Homo sapiens: one gene and its partner. The protein of the gene in region 2 purifies or fractionates together with the protein of the main gene of each other region. This does not show direct contact. Each region holds a gene or a part of one and is shown on either strand. Other genes may lie near its edges.

Region 1 (4,709 bases), on a different chromosome or scaffold from region 2:
GTAGAATTCTTCATAAAACTTGAAACTACTGTGCAAATATGAGGATTATAGCCTTTTTTTAAGGAAGCACTATTCAAACCACTTCTTAAGAACCGATATTCTTGCACTGATGGTTCCATCAGAATTGTTTTGAGCTTAACAGGTTGAAGACAAAAGTCAACAAATCTACTAAATAGGTTTGAGGTCTGATTTTTAAAAATCCTATTTAAATTCCAGATTTAGAGAGAAGAATATGGTGTTATATTGTTTCGCCTATAAAGGCAAAGAAATATTTAATGTCATGCTAATGTTCCAATATCATTTTTCACATTTCTGCAAGGTTAAGGCCATTTTATCAGCTTAGAACCTATATCCAACCTGCTGTAATTTGGCTGGGTTTTTGTGTTTCTGCCACAGACATTTAATCACTCCCAAATCTGTCAAAAAAATTTCTACAATTTCAGAGGTACTTGATATATTTTAGCAAAGATAAGCTACTGGAACTTTTAAAACCAGGTTGCTTTTTGCTGTTTTTTCCAGTGTTGAAAGATAAGATTTCTCTTGCTTTCTGTCTTCATAGACTACTACTGGAGAATGCCACTTTGAAAATTATCAAAGAGTGTGTGCATTAGAGCAGCAAAAGAGTGCAATGCAGACCTTGAAAGGCATAGTCCGGTTCTTGTCCAAGACTGATAAGAGGCTATTGGTAAGTTTCAGTTTTTCAGGTTGTAGTTCCTGCTTTCCAACAGAGAAGTGAGACACTTAAAATCAAGTCAATGGGTTTGAGCTGTCACTTCAATAATAAGAGAGAAGACAAGTTTAGGTAGTATTCTTGCGTGGAAGGAACAAGCATGGTTGGAAAGTTGAGATAGACCCAGGGTCTATCCCATATATAAACATGTTGGCCGGGTGTGATGGCTCACGCCTGTAATCCCAGCACTTTGGGAGGCCGAGGTGGGCAGATCACAAGGTCAGGAGTTCGAGACCAGCCTGGCCAACAGAGTGAAACCCCGTCTCTACTAAAAATACAAAAATTAGACAGGTGCCTGTAATCCCAGCTACTCAGGAGGCTGAGGCAGGAGAATTGCTTGAATCCGGGAGGTGGAGGTTGCAGTGAGCCGAGATCACGCCACTGCACTCCAGCCTGGGTGACAGAGCAAGACTCCATCTCAAAAAGAAAAAAAAAAATGTTATACAGTTTCATTTTTTTATCTAACAAATGCCCACTATTTGCCAACAAGACATTGTTCCAGACCCTTCAGGACACCAAGAGGTTGTCTTCACCTGGGCAGCCTTTGTGGCATGGGTTAATTTTCATTCTTTTCAGCTTAGTGAATGTATGAAAAGAAACTGGAGAAGCATTCATCACCTTGAAATGATCCACGTTTTACAACAAACAAAGAATACGTAACTTAGCAAGACTCTGATTAGGAACATTTTTTAAAAATTCTGTCCCAGAAGATTATGTTAATACAAATAATAAGAACATATGCTGCAGTTTAAATACTTTATTATAATTTAGAAAACAAACATTCATGTCTTGTTTAAAGGTAATTTAAATGCCACTAAGGAAAGCAGATGTTTAATTTCATATTTATGGAAAGATGATTTTCAAAATGCCATTAGAGTATATATTAAATTCTATATAAAATATTTTAAAAATATTTTCCAATGTTGAAAATTTTAATGTAGCACTTTTATATTCCCTTCAAGTACTGCATAAAAGCTGATCCACATTGTTTAAATTTCTTGTGTAATTTTGGGAAAATGGAAAGTGGAAAAGAAGCCAGTGTTCATATCCAACTGGAAGGCCGGCCATCCATTTTAGAAATGGTAAGTAAGTCTAAAACATTGACAACTTGGTGGCTAAGTTTACATAAAATCTATAAATTCAGTCATATAGGCAGGATAGTATGAAGGCATTCAACAAATTAAATTTTAAATAAAATTTTGGAGTAAAACTCTAAAACTGTATTTCTATCACTTCAACTATCTACATTGACTAAGTGAAATGGCTTTAGAAATTAACAGGTAATAAAGGCTAAAATAGGCCAGGCACAGTGGCTCATGCCTGTAATCCCAGCACTTTGGGAGGCCAAGGCAGGAGGATCACTTGAGGCCAGGAGTTCGAGACCAGTTGTATTCCTAGGTAGATGTCTGGTGTTATTTCTGAGGTCTCTGTTCTGTTCCATTGGCCTCTGTATCTGTTTTGGTTAGCCTTGTAGTACAGTTTGAAGTCGGGTAGCCTGATGCCTCCAGCTTTCTTTTTGCTTAGGATTGTCTTGACTATATGGGCTCTTTTATGGTTCCATAGGAAATTTAAAGTAGTTTTTTCTAATTCTGTGAAGAAAGTCAATGGTAGCTTGATGGGAGTAGCCTTGAATCTGTAAATTACTTTGGGCAGTATGGCCATTTTCACGATATTGATTCTTCCTATCCATGAGCATAGAATATTTTTTTCCATTTGTTTGTGTCCTCTTATTTCCTTGAGCAGTGGTTTGTAGTGCTCCTTGAAGAGGTCCTTCACATCCCTTGTAAGTTGGATTCCTAGGTATTTTATTCTGTTTGTAGTGAATGGGAATTCACTCATGATTTGGCTCTCTGCTTGTCTATTATTGTATACGAATGCTTGTGACTTTTGCACATTGATTTTTGTATCCTGAGACTTTGCTGAAGTTGCTTATAAGCTTAAGGAGTTTTGGGGCTGAGACCATGGAGTTTTCTAAATATACAATCATGTCACCTGCAAACAATTTGACTTCCTCTCTTCCTATTTGAATACCCTTTGTTGCTTTCTCTTGCCTGATTGCCCTGGCCAGAACTTCCAATACTGTGTTGAATAGGAGTGGTGAGAGAGGGCATCCTTGTCTTGTGACGGTTTTCAAAGGGAATGCTTCCAGTTTTTGCCCATTCAGTATGATATTGGCTATGGGTTTGTCATAAATAGCTCTTATTGAGATATGTTCCATCAACACCTAGTTTATTGAGAGTTTTTAGCATGAAGGGATGATGAATTTTATTGAAGCCCTTTTATTTTAAAAATATAGCTAAGAAGAAAAACTAAGGCTTTCATAAAATCAAATAAAATCAAAATTCAACAACAAAAACATATTTAAATTTTAAAAATAATGAAATATATCTTGGACTTTTTCCTACAAAGGAGCATGTATATTTATGAGGAGTAGTTTGAGATGAAACTAGTTTTATGTGGAGTTCTGTTTTTCAGCTTTCTCATCTGTTCAATATGGATAAATGAGATGATTTTTATAAGCACTTAGTTCATGGAACATAGGAAGCCAAAGGAAATGGCAGCTGTTATGTTCAAGTGGAATTCTTGAAATTGCCAAACAGTGCTTAAGAGGAAGATACACTAGACAGGCAAAGAAGAAATATCCATTTTAGTTTCAACTGTGCTAAAAGCAAAGTCATTGAACCATCAGCAAGTCATTTAACCTTTTGCAGTTTGCCTTATCTTTTTCTCTAGGTCTAGGTTTTCCATCAGTGGCCATAATTGGCATTTTGAACCAGATAATTTTGTTTTGGGGGGTTGTCCTGTGCATTGTAGGATATTTAGTATCATCCTCAGCCTCTATACGCTCACTGCTGGTAGTACCACCTCCCACGTTCTGACACTTGACAGTTTCTTTAGACATTCCTGACTGTCCCTTAGGTGATAAAACCCTCCCTGCTGAGAACCACTGCTCTAGATCTATAGGAAGCTTGTCATTTTTGGCTCTAAAATGTTAAATAACATTTACACAATAGTTTTAAAGGTCATATCCCTCTTTAAGAATCTGACTAAATATATTCTCATCTCCCTCAGCAAATGCACACATGAAAACATCTCCTAAAGATTCTTAGAATTTATAAAGCCCTTCTACAGATCCCCAAGCTTCATGGATTCTGCGTTATAAAATCCTTGCTTTAGATAGTAAAGTTCTGAGTTCATCCACTGATTTTATATTTGAATTCTATAATGTATTTAATTTAGAAAGAAATAAAAAGCCCAAATAAGATAGATTCAATATGCGGTGGTGGGGTGGAGAACAATGGTAAATGGTAACTTACCTCTTTCTGTAGTCTAATATTTAAATCAAGTTATTTGCAAGGTAGCTGTTTAATCAAAGGATTTCAATAAAATGATACTATATAAATTAATACCAAGACCACACTTTGGGAACCAAAGGAGGCACTGCAGTTAATTTTAAGTGGTGAAATAAATTGGGGAAGGTAAATTGTGAAAACCTCTAGCTAGAAGGTAAAGATCCTGATAAATTATGTCTTTATGAAATAAACCAGGCTATGGTGATCCTTCTTTTATTAAACAGGATGAGACTTCAGCACTCAAGTTTGAAATAAGAGCAACAGGTTTTCCAGAGCCAAATCCAAGAGTAATTGAACTAAACAAGGATGAGAATGTTGCGCATGTAAGATTACCCTCTTAACTGCTACATTAAAATTATAGGAAAACACATTTCAAGGGTGTCTATAATTACTTCCTTCTGAGTAACTGAGTTGGGAAAGTAGAGTGTGACCAGCTCATGGAGGGCCCCCAATACTTGGTTGAGAGTTGGCATTTTCCACAACTGGCAGGAGGGAACAATACAGCAGTTCTTTCAGAGAGGTGAATTGGGCAGCAGTGAGAATTGAATAGATTGGAGGAAAAGTCATGGATACAGCCCATTACACTCACTGTTTCTGCTAAACAGTTACCAGTGTTTCCTGCAATT
Region 2 (5,434 bases):
AATGCCAAGTCATAAAACCTCAGACACTTGCAAAATAAGAGAACAAATATGCACGGAGCTGCTCAGCCACTGATATGTCAACTCCTGGGAACAGCTGGTGTCCACGGGGGAGGGGGCAGCATGTGGCCAGGCATGTGAGTGGCTTCCACTCAGGAGAGCCCCTCTGAGCAGGTCTTGTTCAGGAGTTCAAAATATGTCTTCCAGGGCATGGTTTCAACAGTGAAGAAGCAGCTGAAGGTCCGAGGGAACAAACAGGAAGAGACAGTAGGGCGGGGTTTGGGGAGGTTCGGGAATCTTGTGGCATCTGCCCTCAACACAGGTTCCATCTCCACCTTGCCCATTCCTGGGGCCAGCAATTGTGCCACGTGGCTCTGGCCTTCAGGTCTAGCCTGAGCCTGAGGCCAATCCTGAACTACAACGTGATTTGAGGCTCCCTCCCTCCTTAGCCAGGGTCACTTGTGCCATGCCTCCTCCTCCAGCCCGTGCCCCTCAGGGGAACCCCAGGCTGTCCTGGTGTGATCCCTGCATCCAAGAGCAGCAGGAGAATGTTTTGTCCCAGTGGAAGCAGTTCCCAGACTTAGGCAATTAGTTACCTATTTGTTAATCTTACAATAAGGGGGTTGACTAAGAATGGGAAGTTTTCCCAGAGCCAGGCTTTGCTTGGAGCTCGTCCCCTAGAGCAGGTGCTGCAGCTCAGCAGGGCCTAGGAGCGAGGGCAGTGGGGCTTCTTCTCAGCCTCCACCACTTTTGGGTCTAGGGCAGGGTAGGGAAACCCTGAGAAAAGTACCCACAGACATTGTCACCATTGTCTCCAGGCTCTTTCTCTAGAAGGCAGGGAAGAAGTGGGGAGGAAGACCAGAGAGAAGGTTCTGAAGGCCATGTGGCCCAGGTGCAGGCAGCTGCAATGGTGTCAGAGGGCAGAATCAGGAAACTCAGATTGGCCAGGGGCCTGAAAGTGAACCCCTGGGCTTAATGCCTCACTGGGCTTCCCACTAAGGCACAAGCAGGGCAGCCTGGTACAGCCTGCTGTGGGCTCACTTCCCTTTGTCCCTCGGAATGGCTTTGTCAGCTGCTCCTGTGCCCACACCACACCCCATGCAGCATCCACAGCTGTGGACCTGAGGAAAGCTGATGCCCTGTCTTACGTTGTTCAGCTCCAGGCTTTCTTGAAAAGGGCAGTTGTCAATGTCATCTTCAAATTTCCTACATACGGTTTGGCGCAGTTGCAGATTCATGGAGAACACCATCTTACCTCGCCACTGTTGGACAAAAGAAGATTAAAGTGGATGCACCGTCTTCCTGCCCCTAAGTAGCTACTAGTGAAGATGCCATTTGAGTAGGAGAGGCCCCAACACTTTACTGCATTTGAGAGCTTGCCCATGGGCCTGGCATCAGCTCACTGGAGGTGAAACCCAGGGGATCTTCTCTAGACTGAGGAGTTAAGAGCAAAAAGCAGGTGGGCATGGTGGGTCTGGGGAGGATGCAGGCTGAGTCAGACCCCACTAACACATTATCCACCTCCACCCACCCCCATTTCCCACGGTGAGACTCCAGCTTCACTCTCAGTAGGCATCTGATCTTGCAGCTGCATTCCCAGAGGACAGAGCCACATGTCCGGGAGGGTGTTGGATCTCCAAGAGTTTTCAGGGTAACTTCAGCCCTGGGACAGAGGGAGCCTCATCTACAGTGTGTTGTCAAACCTTCCAAGTGACCTCCAGCAAGAAGAATGACACACAGCGCTCCCACTACACACAGGCACACACCCTGGGAAAATGGGTTCAAGAAATACCATCTGCCCTATTGCAAAGTGCATGCTGAAGTTCTCCTTGCCCTCCTTCCCACTCCATTCTATTTAATTCCACTCCATAGCCTCCCTCTCACCCATCTATTCTTCCCAGCCCCCAAACTGATGCTGGGATTGCCATATCCAGGAAGCCATGTGGAAAGCTTTTAGGACTTACTGTCATTTAGGACTTATAGACCATAGTAAGGAGCTTAGATTTTATTCTAACGGTATTAAGAATGGAGGCTTACACTGAGGTCTTGGAGAATCAAGCAAAGCACTGGGAAAGCAGAAGCATGAGGCCTGGCCAATCTCAATCTCTGAGACTTCCAAGGTTCCAGCATGAATATTAGCAGCCACCATTACTGGACCAGATGCCCCTCTGAGGGTTGCATCAGGCTTTTAATTCTCCTGAGAGGAGGCAGCAAATGAGCAAGGAGGAAAATTCCTCTGTACCAGCATTGGAATCCTGAGGATGGCAGTGAGGAATCCACCCCAGGAGGCAGAGAACCAGCCAGAGCCTTGCACAGAGTCTTTCCAGAGCTTAAGCTCTGTGCGGTACTAGAGTCCCTCTGCCTTTCTTTCAGGCTCTTGGTGCTGAGAAAGGAAGAGCAATGCTCCTTCTCTCTCTAAACCAGAAGTTCTCCACTAGGAGGGCATTTTAATTGTTCATGCCTGAAGCCCAGATGAACTGTGCATTCCTGACCACATTTAATGATTTCATCAAAAAGGCAAGCATTTTAGGATAAAGGTCCATTGAGGAAGAGTGTAAATTGGCCTTCAGTTCATTAAGTGCAGACAGAGCAAGGAGCCCAGAGAAGGTGGAGATCAGAGAACTAACCTTTCACGGTGGCCTCTCAGGGCTGATGGTGTTCTTTATTGCCCTCGAATTCTCACTGTTCTCTCTCTGTCTGCCTGTCTCTCTCTCTCTCTGTCTCTCTCTCTCTGTCTGTCTGTCTCTCTCTGTCTCTCTCTCTCTCTCCCTCTGTGTGTCCTTGCTTTTCCATTTTCATTTTATGACCTGGAAATGTTTATCAGTCTCTTTGGTTATTTTCTCTTCTTGTCAGCTTCATCTCCTTAGAAGTCCTTATTTTGAAGTCACTCTTCAGTTATACAATGTCTTAAAAATCATGAAGATTGAAAAATATATTTTGCATGTGAATAGACATTTACCTAATTTAAAAAAAATTTTAAGTTCAATGTTTTCCAAAACTAAAACTACCGTAATTGGTTGTGGACTACCTGACTATGGACTGCTGATGGTGAACCAAGTCTCCTAGACTAGACATCTTGGTCCCTCACTTAGGGGCAGATGGAGAAGGACAGGCCAGAAGAGGATGTGGTCACCAACCTTTCTGTCCATGCTATCCTCCCTCCATGAACTCAGGACGCGCAACAGCCTGTAGGCATGCTCCTCCTTGCTCTGCACGTTGAAAGTGTTCAAGGCAAACTCCACTGTGGCGAGGAACATAGGATCCTGGACTATTTTATTATTACCACCCATTTCCTCTTCAGAACACCAGGCATAAGTCACCAGGAGCTGGAAGCCCATGAGAAGCAGTGACAGTGCCCAGGGCATAGCCTTCCTCCTCTGCGGACTCGACATGATGCAGGCTCCAGCAGCCCTTGCCTTTGCCCTTCAGATCCCTGGCGTCCACTGGAGCCTTCCAGGGCTCAGGTCTGGCCTTTAAATTCACCTGCTGGGGCAGAAACTCCTCCCTCCAGGCCTCACCTCTGCAGTTACACCCTGTCTCTCCCACACATGGCCTCCCTTCTTCCAAAGGCGTTTAAATCATCTCCTGTTTAGGGGAGAGGAACAGCACCCAGGCAGGTGGGTTGGAAAAGACTAGCAATGGGAGAGATAGTGCCCTGAACATGAGGCCCAGCCCCAGCTGCCCCAGCACCTCCGCAGGCTAAAGGAGACCTCTACTGGGCGCCCCAGAGTCAGAGCCCGGCACAGGAACACAAGTGTGAGAGGTATGAGTGGAAGGTGAGCCCTGGACTCAGCAGTGGGGGTGGGCTGGGAGGGGGAGGTTAGGTGGAAAGGCAGAGACAAAAGGATGGAAAGGGATGACAGTGGATGCTAGTATCATGGGTGAGCAGGTACAGCGCCCCGAGAAAGCACTGGGCCTCTTGAGAGAGAGGCGGGGAGCCCGGGAGGATTGGCGGGATGTCCTGCAGGTGTCTGCTCCCCCGAGGGTCTCGGGAGGGGGGCACCAGCCTGGGGGTCGTGGGCAGAGGTTGAGGAAATCAAGAGCAGGAGCCCCCAACCCTGTTCTCTGCACCTCCCTAAATGCAGCTTCCCAGCCCAGGGACGCGCTGCCAAGTGCTGGTACTAGGGGCCTGGCTAGTTATGGCTGCCCCTATTCCTCAAAGGTGTTTCCAGGACGGGTGGCCGCTTGCAATTGGAGCAGTGGAGAACCAGAAAGACGAAGATGCCCTCAGGGATGGCTGAAGTGCACCCATTAGGTTGTCACGGGTTCCCTCCTGTGGCCACAGCCGGCACAGCACTCTGCGGCACAGTTTGTGGGTGGAGATTCTGAGTTCTCGACCAAGACCCACATAGCCTCCAACTCCAACCGCAAATGGGGCTCTCAAAAGACTGAATAATGCACTCTTCACAGACCAGACTTAAGCTTTGTCCCTGTGAAATATGCCTTTGATGTTTATCCGTAGCTCCTTGTAAACTTCAGAAGCAACCAGCATCCCCTGATGTCACGTTAAAAAGCAAGTTCCTAGTTTCCCCACCCAAAGATTCTGACCCAGTAGCTGTGAGCAGGGCCAGGGAAACTACATTTCTCACCAGCTTCCAGAGGATGGTTGTGTTCCCGGTCTCAGAACCATACTTTGAGTGGTGCAGGTTCAGAATACTTCCTGGGAAGTGCATACAGACCAAACCACATATGAGAAGTAACTCAGCTTGAGGGGCATGGAGGTCAGGGGATGAGAATGGCTTTTGTGGGGCACACAGGATGGGGGACAGGCTTAGACAGCATGCCTGGTGATAAAGAATAAGAGTTTGTTTCTAGACCCTGTTTGCAAAGAAAAAGCAACTCAATGTGACAATTCCAGGAAAGCAGCCAGATGTGCCAAAAACATCACCCAAGGAGTCTGTATCCTTTCTCTGATGGCGTTGAGTTCACTGGAACTGCAGCTGAAGCGTAACTAATGTGGTTTCTTAGCTGGAGAGTGATGGTGCACGTAGGGGTAGGAAGGGGGTGTCAGTGAGGGCGGAAATGCCTTTGTGGGTTTTGGGATGAGCAGGCCATAAGGTGCTGTGAGAACTAGAATCCTGATGCCTGGAATAGGTTGCGAGTGTCCTGAGAGAGGCCTGCAATGCCCATGGAGGTCACTCTCACCTTGTAAGTTCAGCGGCTGACAAACTTGGGGCATCCTGCCAATTGCCAGTGGCTCCCCCACCATTCTGAGGGCCGATACCCACATGTGCTCCAAGGGAGTGCCCACACTCACTCTTACATGAGCAGTGGTTTAGGGTCCTGGGCACCAGCTCTGTCCTCACTGTGCAGCCAAGGAGGGGACAGGGATCCCCACACCCAGATGTGAGACCACGGGTGTACAGACACCATGGACCCTTACAAGTGTGTCTATTTTCTTGTTGAATCCCCAGTGGCCTGGGATGGCCTCACTTCC

What was found. Proteins that work in one complex are often made in the same cells at the same time.
Region 1: the proteins of CST9 (region 2) and ITGA4 purify together in Homo sapiens (affinity purification with mass spectrometry; 3 studies listed by BioGRID and IntAct, with this or other methods). This does not show direct contact.

Annotation. Positions count from the first base shown.
Region 1 is NC_000002.12:181,529,965-181,534,673, forward strand, and holds part of ITGA4 (integrin alpha-4 isoform 1 preproprotein), read left to right. Parts: intron 1-559; coding exon 560-685; intron 686-1,692; coding exon 1,693-1,812; intron 1,813-4,307; coding exon 4,308-4,406; intron 4,407-4,709. UniProt on the Homo sapiens protein: Integrins alpha-4/beta-1 (VLA-4) and alpha-4/beta-7 are receptors for fibronectin. They recognize one or more domains within the alternatively spliced CS-1 and CS-5 regions of fibronectin. They are also receptors for VCAM1.
Region 2 is NC_000020.11:23,602,476-23,607,909, forward strand, and holds the start of CST9 (cystatin-9 precursor), read right to left. Parts: upstream 3,443-5,434; 5' UTR 3,390-3,442; coding exon 3,135-3,389; intron 1,260-3,134; coding exon 1,035-1,259; 3' UTR 1-1,034. UniProt on the Homo sapiens protein: May be involved in testis development. May play a role in hematopoietic differentiation or inflammation. Has immunomodulatory and antimicrobial functions against Francisella tularensis, a Gram-negative bacteria.